2 separate regions of the Homo sapiens genome follow, and region 1 is linked to region 2. A link means that fine-mapping ties the variant in region 2 to the expression of a gene that starts in the linked region. Tissue or cell type: whole blood. Region 2 holds a variant in brackets; the other region holds the start of a gene. All regions are shown on one strand. Distances are between the middles of the regions.

Evidence for each region. PIP is the estimated chance that this variant, and not a neighbour inherited with it, causes the effect.
Region 1: it holds the start of CREG1, and the variant in region 2 is fine-mapped to the expression of CREG1 in whole blood (INTERVAL, PIP 0.97).

Annotation. Positions count from the first base shown.
Region 1 is chr1:167,549,736-167,558,957 of GRCh38, reverse strand. CREG1 (cellular repressor of E1A stimulated genes 1) reads left to right here and starts at 5,196. Exons shown (of 4, transcript NM_003851.3): 1 at 5,196-5,570. The coding sequence starts at 5,217. RefSeq lists a silencer at 5,058-5,507.
Region 2 is chr1:167,524,468-167,533,541 of GRCh38, reverse strand. LOC107985224 (a long non-coding RNA gene) reads left to right here. Exons shown (of 2, transcript XR_001738279.2): 1 at 1-279; 2 at 3,287-4,003. It also overlaps the pseudogene AKR1D1P1. Among named protein-coding and RNA genes, the nearest start is that of CD247, 10 kb to the right of the region's middle. The variant A/C (reference allele first, on the strand shown) is at 4,295.

The DNA of each region.
Region 1 (9,222 bases), 25 kb before region 2:
AGTACTTCCTCAATAGCTGCCTGGGGACTTTCAAGACATTTTATAAAGTTATTTTTTTCAAGAGGCTTTTTTTTTTTCCTGCAGAGGCCACAGTGAAAAGTGTGAAAAATCTATAGAGAAATTAAATGAAGCAATCTACAGATTTTTAGAGTAGAAAGTGGGAACAGAAATAGTGGGAAAAGGCCTGGTATGGTGGCTCACACCTGTAATCCCAGCAGTTCAGGAGGCCGAGACGGGCGGATCACCTGAGTTCGAGTTCGAGACCAGCCTGGCCAATATAGTGAAACCCCATCTCTACTGAAAATACAAAAATCAGCTGGGCGTGGTGGCATGCCTGTAATCCCAGCTACTTGGGAGGCTGAGGCAGGAGAATCACTTGAACCCAGGAGGTGGAGGTTGCAGTGAGCCAAGATTGCACCACTGCACTCCAGCCTGGGTGACAAAGCAAGGCTCCGTCTCAAAAAAAAAAAAAAGAAATAGTGAGAAAAAAGCTAACAATTACTAACACATAGCTAACAACTACTGAGCATCTATTCTGTTCCAGGCACTATAATGGATATTTTAAATGCATTCTCTCATTTAATCCCCATAAAAATCCAGTGAAGGAGGAGCTATGATTTTAATGACAGGGAAATTGTGGTTCAGTATCATCCTATGTAAGCTCATGCTTAAGTGGCTAACTCCAGAGCTAACTCTCTTCACTGTTTCACTAGCTATCTACTATTTGAAGCATGCATACCACAAAAGAGAAGTTTTCTATTCTTTAAAGACTAAAGCCTGAGCTATGGCAGACAGCCTGAGAACCCTCTGCCCTTGGTGTGACTGTTCTGATACAATTCTTTTGTCAATAACATGTAATGGGTACCTGCTAGATGCCTGGATCTGTGCTCGGTGCTGGGAGACGGAAAGGACAAAGCCACTGCTTCTAACCTAGAAGGAACCGGTGGTGACCTAGACAAATAAGCAAGGGCAACACCATGTAAAAGAAGGAGTTTGCAGGGTGGGTTCTTCATAAGGATCAAACCTAGACATAAGGAAAAGATAACTATTCCACAGTGGGCCTGTGGGGATGGGGACCAGTGTAGGTTGTTCACATAAAAACATAAAGTCAGGATGAGAAGCAGCAGGATCTGGGATGATTATTTCAGCCACTCCTGGCTAAGGGCTTCCCCTAATATCCCAATGAGGAGGATTTGCTAAACAAAAGCTGGAGCGCCTGGTTGTTAGCTTATGCTGATTTACTCATCCTCACTTTTTAATCATTTTATACAGCTCTATGTGCAAAGAATTTTGCCAGATATTATTCACTGTCAGGTAGTCTTTCAATAAATATTTATGTAGTGCCCACTCTGAGCATTGGGAATACGAAGGCGGACAGGATAGACAACATTCCTGCTCTCCCGGAGCTCGCGTTCTACCAGTGGAGACAATAAACACGTAGCTAAAAAAATAAATACTGTTATTATAGTATTTATTTTTGTTGTGATGAATTAATGATTGCTATGAAAGAAATAGAGTTGGCTGAGGGAGAGTAACTGGGGAAGGCCTCTCGGAAAGAGTGCTCTAGGAGTCACTGCTGAGGAGTGACATCTAAGTGGAGGTCCCAATGGGAGTGAGGTAGCCATGCCAGCAGCTGAGGGAAGAGCATTTTGAGCATAGGGAACAGCAAACACAAAGATAGATACTGAGGTGGCGTGCTTAAAGCCAGAGGGTTTGTAGACCTCATTCTCCTGCTCTGATGCCTGAGACCAAGCTCTAGGCACCTGTTTTGTAATGGAGCTGTAATAGGGTCTATTGCTATTTTGTATGCCAGCAATAAATGATGTAGCAATAAATAAATTTTTTTCATCTTTTTGCAAAAAAATTCACATTGTGAAACTTACAAAAGGCTCATACTTTGCATGTTAATAGAAAAATAAGGCCAGGCACAGTGGCTCATGCCTATAATCCCAGCACTTTGGGAGAATGAGGTGGGAGGACCAATTGAGGCCAGAAGTTCAAGACCAGCCTGGGCAGCATATGAGACCCCATCTCTACAAAAAATTAAAAATTAGCCAGGTGTGGTGGCATACACCTTTAGTCCCAGCTACATGGGAGTCTGAGGTGGGAGGATCACTTGAGGGAGGATCACTTGAGCCCAGGATTTTGAGGCTCACAGCTCGTGAGCCACCACTGCAGTGTAGCCTGGATGACAGAGCAAGACCTTGTTTCAAAAAAAAAAAAAGAGAAAAAGAAAAACAAACAACCACAAAGAAAAAGAAGATATAGGGCTGGAAGAGGCATCAGATATTAATATCATCTAATCCAACTCCTCATTTTAGATGAGAAAATTGAGGCCCAAAGGTAAGATAAAATCCCATGGTCACATGGCACGATAGTGGCAGACCTGAGATTAGAACTCCAAATGTGAGAGTATTCTTTCCTTAACAGGTAAGGGATGAAATGTTTATAACCGGCAGGTACTCAAACTATTTGTATTAATCATTTGTTTTTAAAATGATGAACCCAATTTTCCTCCTTTTGAATTTCTCCCACTTAGTTTTCCATCTATTTTGAAGTTCTTCCAAATTCAGTTGTTATAAAGCAAACCAACTTTGATTAAGGATCCTTCTTACCCCAATGTCGAAATCAGGGTGTGTGACATCATTTGGCCACCAGAGGGCACTGAAGTCTCCTGTTCAGAGTAGATGATCTTGCTTCTTCTGATACACAATTCCTACTGTGTAGCCTGAGAAGTTGGCTGAATATTAGGAGGCTGGTTTTGAGAAGGGAAGTAGCGGTGGGACTTTGGCTCACACACCTGTTGCCCACGGCTGCTCACATGACTGGCCAACAGCAGCTGAGTGAAATTACCTCACCTCTGTTACACAACTCAGCCTCACAGGGCCAGGTGTCTGCCAGAGCCAGCTTTACAAGATGACAAACTCTTGCACTAACACCACCATACAGTCTTTATAACAACAATTACAGTGGAAATTTGAGGCCAGGCCAAAAAGATTAAGACTTGCTCCAAAAAGACGTGACCAAAGCTTAAAGTCATAAAGAATGGAGGCCAGGTGCTATGAGCTTATTGACCAGTTTCCAGAATAGCAGAATCAGGAGCACCCGTGAGAGAATGAGACAGGCCATCTTAGAAGAAGCAAAAGGAATGTCCCTTACATGGAGCAGGGAAGGGCAGCGGGGGCAATAAATTCATGAAACCGCCGACCCCAAGCTTAATGTCTTAACAGGTCCTGAACTGGTAAGTTCAAATTTGTACATGGGATATTGATAGTAGACTAACAATCCCTTTGTGCGTCTATATGAGGGACTCCTGGGCCAGTAGTTTAAAAGGTCTTGACGGGCAATAACAAATGTTGGTGAGGATGTGGGGAAAAGGAAACCCTTGTACACTGTTGGTGGGAATGTAAATTAGAATAACCGCTTTGGAAAAAAATTTGGAGTTCCTCAAAAAATTAAAAATAGAGGTACCATATGATCCAGCAATCCCACAGCTAGGTATATCCCTAAAAGAAAGAAAATCAGTATATTGAGAGATGTCTGCACTCCTGTGTTTACTGCAGCACTATTCACAACAGCTAAGATTTGGAAGCAACCTAAGTGTCCATCATCAGATGAATGGATAAAGAAAATGTGGTATATATACACAATGGAGTACTATTCAGCCATAAAAAATGAATGGGATCCTGTCTGTCTTTGCAACAACATAGTTGGAACTGGAGGTTATTACGTGAAGTGAAATAAGCCAGGCACAGAAAGACAAACTTCACACATCCTCACTTATTTGTGGGAGCCTAAATGGAAACAATTGAACTCATGGAGACAGAGAGTAGAGGGATGGTTACCAGAGGCCAGGAAGGGTAGTGGGGGGACTTGCAGGGGAGGAGTGGGGATGGTTAATGGGTACAAAAAATAGTTAGAATAAGACCTAGTATTTCATAGCACAACAGGGTGACTATAGCCAATAATAATTTAAGTGTACATTTAAAATAACTAAAAGTATAATTGGATTGTTTGTAACACAAAGGATAAATGCTTGAGGCAATGGATACCCCATTTACCCTGATATGACTATTATGCATTGTATGCCTGTAGCAAAATATCTCATGTACCCCATAAATGTATACACCTACTATGTACCCACAAAAATTAAAAATTTTAAAATAAGTAAATAAAAAGTTTTTTAAAGGTCTTGAACTTTCGGGCTTCTGCCTAACTTTACTACTAGTGTAAGTGGGCCCCTTGAGATTTCAGCACCCCAGCATTTGTTAGTGACTGAAATAATGAAAATTCTGATCAGGCCCTTGCTTGCACATGTTGACAACTCTCTTTTTGCCCAATATCCCTTGTTCCTACAACATAATCATAAACTGCTGATGTACTGTTTCTTTATCAAGCAGGAGGAGATAATAACTTCAGGGTTACGAAAAAGTTTGCAGGAGGAATAAGTCCTTTGAAGTACTTTGAGGCCAGCTTCTGTCGCCCAGAAGTCTGATTGTTCAAGGAATTATCTGAGACTGAAGAAACACAGACTTTTTCCCTCGATTCCCTGAAACTCCCCCTCCCTGACTCGCTGGCCGCATAAACACTCTCTGCTTCTTCTTTTTGTTAGGGCGGATTTGAGAGATCTTGCCCTCCCGCCTTCTCGCTTTGGCCAAATCGAATAAACTTTTATCTCCAAGCACCTATATGTCAGTGTTTGGCATCAGCTACACATGGGGTACACGAGCCTGAGTCTGGGCTTCTACAACGCTGGGACCCTCGCTGTTCTTTGGAGCTGATGGTAAATTCAACAGAAAAGAGGCGCATGGGTAGAAAATGCAGCATTTCCTCTCAGATGCCAGATATTCATCTCCAAAGGTATTAAAAGGAGGGGGTGTGTGCCTGTGTAAAGAGGCTGGTCTTTTCCTAGCAGTACGATTTGGGCAAGTTGCTTGATTTCTTCAAGCCTTTCTTTTTCCGCCTGTCAAACAAAACAAAACAAATATCCCGTTTAGGACAAATTCACAATCCTTAAAGAGGGCAGGCAGAGCGATTGGAATGCAGATGAACCAATCCCTTCTCCTGCAGGTTGCGGAGCTGCAGAGGGACCCCGCCCCCTGCATTGTGCTTAGCTCTGATTGGCGCCTCGCGGAGGGGGCGGGGCCTGGGCGCGCCGAGCTCCGGCTGGGTCCCTGCAGGTCTTGGGGCCCGGGACTCTTCCTGGAGACACCGCCATGGCCGGGCTATCCCGCGGGTCCGCGCGCGCACTGCTCGCCGCCCTGCTGGCGTCGACGCTGTTGGCGCTGCTCGTGTCGCCCGCGCGGGGTCGCGGCGGCCGGGACCACGGGGACTGGGACGAGGCCTCCCGGCTGCCGCCGCTACCACCCCGCGAGGACGCGGCGCGCGTGGCCCGCTTCGTGACGCACGTCTCCGACTGGGGCGCTCTGGCCACCATCTCCACGCTGGAGGCGGTGCGCGGCCGGCCCTTCGCCGACGTCCTCTCGCTCAGCGACGGGCCCCCGGGCGCGGGCAGCGGCGTGCCCTATTTCTACCTGAGCCCGCTGCAGCTCTCCGTGAGCAACCTGCAGGTGAGCTGGGGCCCGCGGCTTCCCCAGGCGGGCTGTGGGCGGGGCGGCCACAGAGCGAGCCTTCACTCTCCCCAGAATTCTTCCCGGGAAGTGGAGCGTGGCTCGAACGGCTGTTGCTTCTCTGCCGCGCAGGCAGGTAGGTGGGCGTTGCAGCGTCCCAGATGTTGGGCAGCTGGGTACCAGGAATTTCCCACAAGCCTCCGCCACTGGGCCACGCACCTGGGGTAAATTCTCTGCCAGCAGCCCGAGGACTTCTCATCCGTGAGTGGTTCTCAGTCGTCTTGGGGCCCAGTGTCTCTATTAACTGTGCTCCTATTCTCTTTTTTTTTTTTTTTCCCTTTGAGACAGAATCTCACTTTGTGGCCCAGGCTGGAGTGCAGTGGCGCTATCTCAGCTTACTGCAACCTCTGCCTCCCAGGTTCAAGCGATTCTCGTGCCTCAGCCTACCGAGTAGCTGGGATTACAGGTGCGTGCCACCACACCCGGCTAATTTTTGTATTTTTAGTAGAGGCGGGGTTTCACCATGTTGGCCAGGCTGGTCTCAAACTCCTGACCTCACGTGATCCACCCATCTCAGCCTCCCAAAGTGCTGGGATTACAGGCGTGAACCACCGCGCCCTGCCTGGGCTCCTATTCTTAAAGGTTTTACAGGGCATAGAGATTGTTAGGTACTTAAGCACTTTAATATGTGACTTCAGGGTTTCTCACTCTCTTACCCTTCCTGAATTAAGCTTTTCCCTCCTGCAGCAAGACGCTAACGTACAATATCATGGACGATTACAATGATTACTGCAGTCTTTAGGCCTCCACAGGCATAGTGGCTCCTCAGTAAGATGCAGAGCTGATTGAAGGTGTATCTCTTCCTCGCCCTTTGCCCACCTTCTGGTGCAGGGCCACACTTACAACTCTGATGGATCTCTGCTGTCTCAGGGATGGGGTCACAGACACCCAGCTTGGGAGGCCGGAGACACACAGAGTCCAGGAATGGAGCCTGATTTGATGGAGGGTCTTTTTGACAAAGCTCTCACATTTGAGTTCAACTCTGAAAGTACAACATTGTTGATAAAGACAGGATGCAAGAAACTGATGCTTGATTAATCACTTTTCCATTTGCCTTCCATTCGTTGTCTCTTCTATTAATTCTTTGAAGTAGGTATTATATACCCCATTCTGCAGATGAAGAACTTGAGGCCTACCTAGGTTAAGTAACTTGTTTAAAGCCAGCGGGCAAACCCCTAGTTTCATCTCAGGTTCATCTTTCTTCAAACCACCTATCACAGGCTGGTGGCCCATCAGCTGAATATGTCCCACAGACCGGTTTGGCCTACACAAAGTTCTGTTTTGTTTTTAATAAATTTGAATTTGTTACCAACATTTTAAAATTTAGATTTTACTTTAAAATGTAAATCTCTAACTTTTCTTGAAAAATGGGAAGATCCAGTGACACTGTGGGCCTGCACTCTTTGAGCAAAAACAGAAGCAGTGCCCTCTTTTAGCTAAGGCAGATACACCCCAGTTCACCATTTTCTTATTCCCAGCCCATTCCACACCTTTAGGCGTTTGCTCAAAACAAACTCACTCCACTCCATCAGTGGTGCTCAACTTTGACTGCAAATCATAGTCACCTAAGAAGGCTTTAAAAATGGGATGCCAAGGTATTTTATTGAAAGCACATTTTATTTTAAGACAACACCCCTTCCCGCCTCCCCACAAACCACTCCCTGATGATTCTAATGGGGGAGGAGGGAGATTGACCAATACATAATCATATTTAAATTTGTGAGGTGACTAGGGAGTTGCTGGTATTATTGTCCCCATTTAGGAAGTGAGGAAACACAGACTCAGAGGTGCAGGGACTTACCCTGTGACCAGTCAGCTAATGGCTGTCAGGTAGGACATTAGCCCAGGTCTTTCATGTTTCTAGAAATAGACAGGGCAGTGGCAAGGAACCTACCCAGGGCTTTAGGTTTCCATGATGGCAGTGAAAAGAAGTGGCCACATTAGAATTTGTCTGACTTGATTCCATCAATTAGCAGGTCAAAGTTTCTGCTTTTTTCTTTTCCTCCTCCTGACCTCCAGGGTGCTCTGCATTTCTTCTCATTGACAGGGGGTGAAATCGTTCAGAAGGAACAAAAAGACCTAGGTTTGGGACCATTTCTCATGTGTAAAATACCTGTCCTCTGTAACTTAGAGATATGTTGTGAGCTTCAAACGTACTTACCACTGGGCTGTTTCTTTTGTATGTCTCTTTCTTTGTGGCATTTTTGTATAGTAAATGTCTGTAGGACAGTGTTGCTGATGTTAGCTTATAGTGGGACCGTGTTTGGCTGCAGAGCCAGTGAGTCTGAAGGGAAATCTTGGGGTTTGATTATTTGCACCAAGACCTCTTACTATTAGCCTCCCTTCCATTTTGGCATTCTTTTCTTGTGATGTGCCCCTTTCTGTTCTGGTCACTCTTGGTTTTTTTTCTCTGACCCACTAAAATAAGTATCCCTCAAAGTCAGTTTCCTACTCTTTTGTTCCCTGCAGCGATCCTCAGAAGATTGTATACACTCTCGTTGTATACATTCTCTTCTAGTCCTTACTAGGACTCACTTCCAGATGTGTGTCCATTTCTGACCTCTTCAAAGTTCTCTATATTTCTGCTTGCTGTTCATTTTTGCTTCGTTACTTTGCCACCACTTCAAATTCAACATGTTTAAATCCAGTCCTTCTTCCTCCTGAAACAAGCTGCTTTTGATCTTCTGCATTTCTGTTAGTGGAATTATTGTTTTCTCAGTAAACCCAGTTGGTTCTCACTGCCTCCCCAAATCCCTCAGTTCCCAAGTCCTGACAGTTTTTTGTTGCCTTCTTTACCTCTGTCCTTGCCCCTTCCTCTTCATTCCTGCCACCTCATCCTTAAGCTTATCATCTCATGCCTAAAAGTACTAGAACAGCTCTTACATAGTCTTCCTGTCTGCCCCATCCACCTTGCCTACCCAAATAGATTAACAAAAATACCTGTCACAGCATTGCCCTCTGGCCAGAAACCTTTAACAATACCCAGCTGCCTATAGCTGCGTAAGAGCTACCTGGGATGTTTGTTTAAAATGCATATAGAGGCGGGTGCGGAGGCTCCAGCCTGTAATCCCAGCACTTTGGGAGGTCGAGGTGAGCGGATCACCTGAGGTCAGGAGTTTGAGACCAGCCTGGCCAATATGGTGAAACCCACCTCTACTAAAAATACAAAAATTAACTGGGTATGGTGGTGTACGACCGTAGTCCCAGCTATTTGGGAGGCTGAGTTGAGAGCATCAGTTGAGCCTGGGAGGCAGAGGTTGCAGTGAGCTGAGATCACGCCATTGCACTCCAGCCTGGGTGACAGAGCTTGATTCTGTTTCTAAATAATAAAATGCAGATAGAGGACAGCTTGGTGGCTCATGCCTGTAATCCCAACACTTTGGAAGGCCGAGGTGGGAGGATCACTTGAGTCTAGGATTTTGAGACCAGCCAGGGCAACACAGTGAAACTCCATGTCTACAAAAAATAAAAAAATATTAGCCGGGTGTGGTGATGCACATCTATAGTTCCAGCTACTCAGGAGGATGAGATGGGAGGATCACATGAGCCCTGGAGGTTGAGGCCACAATGAGCCATGATTGTGCCACTGCAC
Region 2 (9,074 bases):
GGACATGGGCCATCACTGCATGCCTGGGATGTGGCCCAGAGGCAGCACACAGCACAACCCTGTGGGGAGGTAACAGCTAGTGGAGCTGAAAGAGAAAGGGGCACTGGAGAAGCAGGAATCATTATACGAAAATTTAATTTCCAGCTGGAAGACATCTTGTGGAGACCATCTAGTTCAGCTTCTTCATTGTATAGCTGAGGACACCCAGGCCCAGAGAGGGGAAGTGATTTGGTCAAAGTCACACAGCAAGTAAAGGACAAAGCTGAGAGCAGATCCCAGGTTTGTGCATTCCCATAGCAGCTGCTTTCCACACACCCCACTGAGGGAAGACCATTTGGTCAAGTCAGAGCACGGGGGGTGGGGGGTTTTAAAAAGCAGAGCTGAGGAACTTAGGAATACACACTGCTTAGCACATGGTTATTAGCTGGTCCTTCAGATGCCCCAGGGTCTCAGCGTTCGAAGCTTGCTCATTCCACAGGATAATTTTGTGTTTGCTCAGGTGCCCAGAAAATGCCTTTTTAAGATTTCTGAGAATAAACCCATCACCTCCAACAGTCCCAGGAATTGCAACTGTCTATTCATAACGAATGAGAGGCAGGTGCATTAAATTCTGACCTAGTGCTCAAGAACTTTGGAGGGATAAAAAGAGGAAGCACACAGGTCCCTATTCTGGGAATGTGGGGCCTCCCTCACCTCCCCATAGGAGGGCTTGTCCACACCACCTCCTCTTTCCTCCTCTTCATCTCCCACCCTTTCCACCAAGACAGTGACCCCATTCCCCATGCTGGGTTCCAATCATTCCTGGAAGGATTTTTCCCAGAGCAGTTGCCAGCAAACATTTTACAGTCCTCTCCTCCTCTCTGTGATGTAACATTTCCCAACACCTTCTATATACTAGGCACATAACCTACATCATCTTACTCATTCCTCCAACAAGACAGTACAGTAGGCATTGTTAGCCAATGTGGGACAAAAGATTTCAGATATTTATTAACTTGTTCAAAACATACAGCCAGCTAGTAGATGGAATTTGGAATTTGAACCTAGGTCTAACCTGTTCTAAAGCTCATGTTCTTCCACTACTGTGAACCAGCACCCAGAAAACTTGAGTTTTAGTTTTGATTCTACCAGCTTTGTGACCTTAGAAAAATAACTTAATTTTAAGTTTCCTAAACTACAAAATGGAAACTGGCTGGGCATGGTGGCTAACTCTTGTAATCCCAGCACTTTGGGAAGCTGGGGCAGCCGGAGTTTGAGACCAGCCTGGCCAACATGGTGAAACCCCATCTCTACTAAAAATACAAAAAATTAGCCGGTTGTGGTGTGGGGGGCCTGTAATTCCGGCTACTTAGGAGGCTGAGGCAGGAGAATCGCTTGGACCTGGGAGGCGGAGGTTGCAGTGAGCCGAGATCGCGGCATTGCACTCCAGCCTGGGCAACAAGAGCAAAACTCCATCTCAAAAATTTTTTTTTTTTAATTTAAATAAATAAATAAATAAAATGGAAACGGTACACCAATATTGACAACCTTACTGAGTCATCAAGATTAAAAAGACAATATGGCTGGGCATGGTGGCTCATATCTGTAATCTCAGCACTTTGGAAGGCCGAGGTGGGAGGATCCGTGAAGGCCAGGAGTTCAAGACCAGCCTGGGCAACACAGGGAGACCCCTATCTCTACTAAAAAAAAATTAAAACATTGGCCGGGCATTGTGGTGTGTGCACCCGTAGTCCCAGCTACTCAAGTGGCTGAGACGACAGGGTAGCTTGGCCCCAGGAATTTAAGGCTGCAGTGAGCTATGACTGCACCACTGCACTCTAGCCTGAGTGACAGTAAAACCCTGTCTCAAAAATAAATTTAAAAAATACAATATATTAATATGTGAAAATGACACACAAATGTAAGACACCCCCATTAAAGCAAAAAAGGTTCTTTTTCCAATTAAAGGGGCTTGGCTATCAATAGCAATATTTAGTAGGTTATATATAACTATAGTTGACCCTTGAGCAACATGAGTTTGAACTGCATGGGTCCACTTATGCATGGATTTTCTTCTACCTGTGCCACCCCTGAGATGGCAAGAGCAACCCTCCTCTTCCTTCTCCTCAGCCTACTCAATGTGAAGACAATGAGGATGAAGACCTTTGTGATGGCCAGGCACAGTGGCTCATGCCTATAATCCCAGCACTTTGGGAGGCTGAGGCAGGAGGATGACCTGAATTCAGGAGTTTGAGACCAACCTGGCCAACATGGTGAAACCTCCGTCTCTACTACAAATACAAAAAATTAGCGGGGCATGGTCGTGGGCACCTGTAATCCCAGCTACTCAGGAGGCTGAGGCAGGAGAATTGCTTGAACCAGGGAGGAGGAGGTTGCAGTGAACTGAGATCACTCCACTGCATTCCAGCCTGGGCAACAGAGTGAGACTATGTCTCAAAAAAAAAAAAAAAAAAAAGAGAAAGACCTTCATGATGATCCACTTCCACTTAATAAATAGTAAATGCATTTTCTCGTACTTATGATATTCTTAATAACATTCTCCTTGCTTTAGCTTACTCTCCTGTTAGAACACAGTATATAATACATACAGCATACAAAATAGGTGTTAGTTGACTATGTTGTTAGTAAGGCTTCTGGTCAACAGTAGGCTATTAGTAGTTAAGTTTTTGGAGAATCAAAAGTTATACGCAGATTTTTTTTACTTCATGGGGTTCAGCAGCCCTAACTCCTGAGTCATTCAAGGGTCAACTGCAATTCATCTTATCCATTCATAGTATCTCTCTAATCTTACCCATGTCCCCAGCTTATTTTTTTTGCCATCTTTCACAGTGGCTTTTGATAGAAAATCTTTGTGCAGCCTTTTACTTTCATTTTTTTTTTTCTGGAGTGTTTGGACATTAGGTGTGTTTTTCCTCCTTAGTGTCTCACTAAAAAAAAGCCCCAAAATTGTGCGGTTAATTTTTTAAAGGGCAATTAGTCTTTTGAGGGGTAGGGCGCACTAGGTAAATCTCCCATCAAAGTGGATTTGTGCCAGCTGTGAAGTTTGCAAACATGTCTTTAATAGCCATGCAATTTCAGCATCTGTAATACTCAAGACCATTTCAATTCCAAGTTGCAGAATCAAAGTCAAATAACTTAAGAAAAAAGCTATTGGCTCGTGAGATGGAAAAGCCCCTGGGACAGGCAGCTAGGCATGGCACGATCCAGGTTCTCAACAATGCAGCAAATGCTCTGCCTGTCTTTATGTCTCTTGCTCAGCTGTTCTCTGTGTTGGCTTCATTCCCAGGCAAGCTTCTTCCATCTGGTGAAAAAGATGAACACCAGGCGTGTCTGATCTTCCCAGAGGAAGAAGGGAGCATCTTTTTGAACAGCATTTCTGTGAGAAATGGGATCCTAAGGTGGCCTCCAAGATTGACACGCCATGGTACAATCTTCGTGATCGTAAGAAGAACCTGTGAATACGATGAGCTATCACTCCTGTGCTTTTGCGGTTTTATGTGGCAAAGGGAGAGTGTTCTGGGTGGGCCTGACCTGATCAGGCATATCCTCTAAAATCAGAGTTTTCTCCAGCTGGTTCCAGAAGACTAAGTCAGAGAGATGCTCTGTGTTTGGGCCAGAAGCAAGCAAACATCCACATTGTGAACTGCCTATGGGGGCCACCTGGCAAGGAACTGCAGGTGTTTTCTGGGACCTGAGAGCATTCCCTGGCCAATCATTAGCAGGAAAACAGGAACTCACTCCTATAACTGAGAGGAAATAAAATTTACCAACAACCAATGAGCCTGGAAGAAGACCCTGAGCCTCAAATGAGAACTGCAGCCCCAGCCAACACTGATTTCAGCCTTGTAAGTACCTGAGCAGAGAACTCAGCCATGCTATATCAGGACTTCTGACCTACATTACTGTAAGATCATAAATGTGTTGTTTTAAGCCACTACATTTGTGATAGTTTGTTATGCAGCAATAGAAAGCTAATACAACTTCCAAAAATTCTACTGTGTAAGTCAGGATCCTTTGGTTGCAAGCAACAAAAATCAGCTCTGGATAGCTTAAGCAAAAAAGGAAATTGGCTGGAACAGTGTTCGTGTAGCCACAGAATATGAGCAACTTCTGGGATGGATCCAAGAAGGAGAAACAAACAAGGGTTATGTCCAGGTCTTGTTTCATTCTGTTAAGATTTAAAGTCCGGGGAGAAAGCAGCTGATTGACATTACCTGATAGCCTCATCAAGCGATTATAATCGGCCGGCACGGTGGCTCACGCCTGTAATCCCAGCACTTTGGGAGGCCAAGGC[A/C]GGCAGATCACCTGAAGTCAGGAGTTCGAGACCAGCCTGACCAATATGATGAAACCCCGTCTCTACTAAAAATATAAAAATTAGCTGGGAGTGGTGGCAGGCACCTGTAATCCCAGCTACTCAGGAGGCTGAGGCAGAGAATTGCTTGAACCTGGGAGGTGGAGATTGCAGTGAGCCGAGATTGCACCACTGCACTCCAGCCTGGGCGACAGAGAGAGATTCCATTAAAAAAAAAAAAAAAGAGATTATAATCGTGGAGAATAGTTGACTCTTCAAAGCAAAATTGATACTATTGCTAGAAGATGGGGGTCTTGATGCCAGGCCTACAAAAACATCCCTGCATTAATATGTTCTTCCCCTAATCAGTTACAATGGCGAGGAAGACAGAATACTCTAATGGAGCAGGTTTAGTCATGTGACCATCCCTGAGCGCAGACAGGCTAGGGGTTAGCTCCACTTGTACTGCATGGTCTGGCCAGGGTTAATATGGGGGTTGGGGGGAGGAAGGGATGCTGGGTGTAAATATAAGCATATAATGTCTATTATGGCATCCCGTTTACTGAGAATCAGAGCACTTCAGTTGCAGTCTGGACTCTGAAACTAGCTAATTCTATATCTTCAGTAAGTCATGTTACCTTTCTGGGTCTCAATTCTCTCATTTACTAAATAAAGGTTAGATTAATGATTTCCAGTCCCCATCTAACTGGGACAATGGTCTGTGACTCAGTATTTAACACAAAGGTATAAATAACTGATAAGGCTTTATATATCTCTCAAGGGCATTTGCTTCTGAATGGAAGAAAAGTGTTTAGTCAGTGGTGTGCTGGGGCATACAGAATGAACTTTCATGTATAATGTCTGCCCCCACCACAGCCAATTTCAAGTTACCAATGATTTAACAACCAACTGGGAAAATTCCTGAAAATTTAACAGTTGGCTCTCATGTGCTGATATCAGCCAGCTCCCACACACCATTATTATAATTTTAGCCAAAAGAGTGACTCTCTAAGCATGTATTTTTGGGTGGATATTAGTAGGTGAGTGGAGAGGGTGTGTTTTAGGGATCAGAAATCCACTGAAATTACATTCTATATGCAGTCATATCCTGGGCCACACTCAAAGTCAGCCAAATTCAGCTCAGATAAAGACTGGTGCTGGGCGTGGTGGCTCACACCTGTAATCCCAGCGCTTTGGAAGGCTGAGGCAGGTCGATCACTGGAGCTCAAGAGTTCAAGACCAGCCCAGGCAACATGGTGAAACCATGTCTTTACAAAAAATACAGCAGAAAAAGTTAGCTGGGTGTTGCAGTACACACCTGTGATCCTAGCTACTCAGGAAGCTGAGGTGGAAGGATCGTTTGAGCCCAGGAGGTCGAGGCTGCAGTGAGCTGTGATCATGCCACTGCACTCCAGCCTGGGGTGACAGAGTAAGACCCTGTCTCAAAAAAAAAAAAAAAAAAAAAAAAAAAAAGGACCAGCAGTTACTGATATGTCAGTTTCCTCAGCCTCTACTCCCAGCCGGTGGGGGCTCCTTTAGGCTCTTTAGGCTCTGCCCTCTCCTCCAGCTTTGGTCAGACATGAAAGAGTCATGGAGCCCAAGGAGTCCATCAGAGCCATAAGATGTGGATCTGTGTGCAGGTGGTGGTGGGAGGGGGCCATGCTTGGCCCAAATGTAGCATCTTAGAAGGCAGATTCTACCTGGGATTGTCACTAAAGGGATGCTTGGCCCTTTCTGCAAACCCATTCCCCTCATTCCCCTCTCGATAACAGTAGTTGGGGTCATGCCCCCTCATTCCTTCAGTAAATTTTAACGGAGCACCTTTTATGTTCCAGGCACTGCATTCAGTTCTGGCCATTCAAATTGCCTAAGACATGGTCTCTAACCCCGGGGACTGAACTTCCCAGAGAGCATTTAAATTTTGTTTCCTGCTGCTCTCTACCCCATCTGGTTTTCGGGTCAGGAATGGTCTGGTCTCTCTCTCTCTCTCTTTCTTTCTCTCTCTCTCTCTCTCAAATTAAATACCAACTATGTACTGGACACTAAAGATTACAAAATGAATAAAACTCCGTCCATGCTCTTGAAGAGCTTGGATTATCATTGTGTGAACATCTGTGTAAACAAATAACCAAGGCAAAAAGTGACAAGTGTTTTTTAACACAGCACTAAACAATATGCGATGGACATAGCTAATAGGTTTAGTAGGTGTGAGCCAGGCTTCACAGTGAAGGGATATTTACACCTTGTCCGAGACCAAGCTCCTGGGTTGGGGAAAGGAGAGAAGGGCCTTCAGGCAAAAGGATTCCTGTGAGCCAAGGCTTGCGGTCACAAAAGGAGGGGCTCATACACAGGCTATGACTGGGGAAACCTCGGGTTGAGGCTGAAGAGACAAGGCTCCACCGAGGTGTTTGGCTGGGATCCTGCCAGCAGAAATGCACTTTGTGAGGGAATAGCCTGTGTGGGCCTCCAGCTGCTTGCCAGCCCTGGACCAGTCAGCTGAAGGGAGGCACAGGGCCTGGGTCAACATGCTGGGGTCTCAAGGGCTAGGGAAGTGCTTCCCCTCACAGGGGTCTTGGGAGAGGCTGTCTCTGGACACCCCAAGGGACAGAGACCAATCCTCTTTTTTGTGCTGTTTTCTCTGATGATCAGGAGCCAGGGAATTGCGAGGCTCAGTGCCGAGTCCCTGTTGCCTAGAAGGAGCTGTTGTAGAGAAAGAACCCCAGGGAAATCTGAATCCTGGGAGGGCCCCTTGGGAGCAAGTGGTTGTGGGAAGAGACCCAGCTCACCTGAAGCACGTTGGCGCCTCAGAACAACCTCTCCTCTAGGTGCAGACAAAGCTTTCCCACTAAATTCTGATGAATCGACCCAAAGAGCAAAAAGGGGTATTTATTGGCTCCTGTGACTGACAAGGGGGCAAAATGGGAACCATCCTTCTCTTCCTGTCTCTGGGCTCTGCTTCCCTCTTGTTGGCCTCATCCCGTCAGGCTCTCTCCCGGTGGGAAATAGACGGCCTCCACTGCTGCAGGCTGCACTACCCCACGGTCACCATTCTCTACGGGAAAATGGTGCCCCTTTCCCTGGAGTTCCAGCAAGAATCTTGAAAATGGCTCTCATGGGCCCTCCCTGAGCCGGTCTTTGTAGACAGAAGGATATGATGCCTGATTGGCTGTCACAGGGTCCATGCCCACACCGGGAGCCAGCCAGCGGCATACATCCCACTCCGTTGAGGGAATATGCGCTCCCCTCCAAGGGAAACGAGGTTGCTTCCAAAAAAGGGAGGGGAAAGATGCTGGACAAGTTAAAATAATTACTTCACCAGCATTACTTATTTGGAGAATTATGAGAATTTATTTAGCACCAGCATCTTCCTCTTACCACATGGCTGCTTATATTCTGCTTGGCCCTACACTTTAAATTGTTCCTGCTTGTAGCTGTAGCCATTTGGCTTCCATCAGTTCAGTCCCAGTCCTGAGCCCCAGTCCCTTCCCCCATACCTTGTCTTTACATTTTCTTTACGCTACCCAATTTTCCAGTCAGCCCCTCAATGGCAGGGGCCCTTCTCTGTAATGACAATGACAACTTTTCCAGCTAAAATCTCCATTCACCAGCTTCTGGGTTTCCCTTACTGTGCTCTTCCTGAGAGGAAGTTGGGGCATCCTCCTACATAGTATTGGACTTCCTGCCATCCTGAATGTTACCAGCCACCCTCCTACTCATTCATCCATCTAGCCACTCACTCACTGAGTCGCCCAACCATCCATCCATCCAACCATGCATGCATGCATCTATCCATCTATCCATCTACCCACCCACCAAAATATATCAGGAAGCAGGGATTCAATCATGAGGAAGAGCCAGAGCTTCCACCATGAGAAACTCACAGCTGCAGGTCATCATGTTCTATCCAGCTTCCTCTCAGCTCCAGCTCTGGGCCTTGCCTGTGTGCCCCTCTGCAAAGCGTGAGCCTCGTTCTAGTTGCCAACCCCATCCCACTGCACACACCAGGGCAAGGCTGGCTGTCGTGGACAGTCATTGTTCTATATATGCCCAGAATCCTTTCCCCTCATTTCTTCTATTACGAATGATTCTGCTAAGGCTGTAAACCAGAGTTTTCCAGCTCCAATCTCGTCTTGACCCCCTGGAAGCACTGGTTTATCCAAAAAGTGGGCATATGGCCCAAGGTGGGCCAATTAGGGCAATTCCTGAGATTGATATGGGGATATTGAGTATTTTGTTATCATTTGGTATGTCACAATCCTCCCAAACTCAGTGGCTTAGAACGACAACCGTTTTAGTTCATGATTCTGTCGGCCAGCAACTTAGGCTGGACTCAGGCAGTGCTTTGTCCGGTCTCATCTGGTGTCACCCACGTGGCTGCAGTCCTCTGTTGGTTCAGCTGGGTCTGGATGATGTAAGAGAGCCTTACTTGTCTGGAAGTCAGCGCTGGCTGTCAGCTGTGCCACGTGTCTCCAGCGGGTTAATACAGGCTTCTTAGTGTGGAGACTGGATTCCCAAAGCGATAAGAAATATGGCAAGTTCCAATGTGCAAATGCTATATAAGTCTTTGAGTTTTTTAAGATGAGAGAAATAACATGCTTGTATACAGATAGGAATGATCCAATTTAGAGGAAAATACTGACATGCAGGAGAGAAAAAAGAGAATATCTGGGGCAATTTCCTTGGGAAGCAAAGGAAGACGGAACCCAGTGGAGAAGCTGATAGCAATCTGATATGTATTCATTGTAATTTTAATTTCGATTTTTTCCTACTATGAGTGATTTTG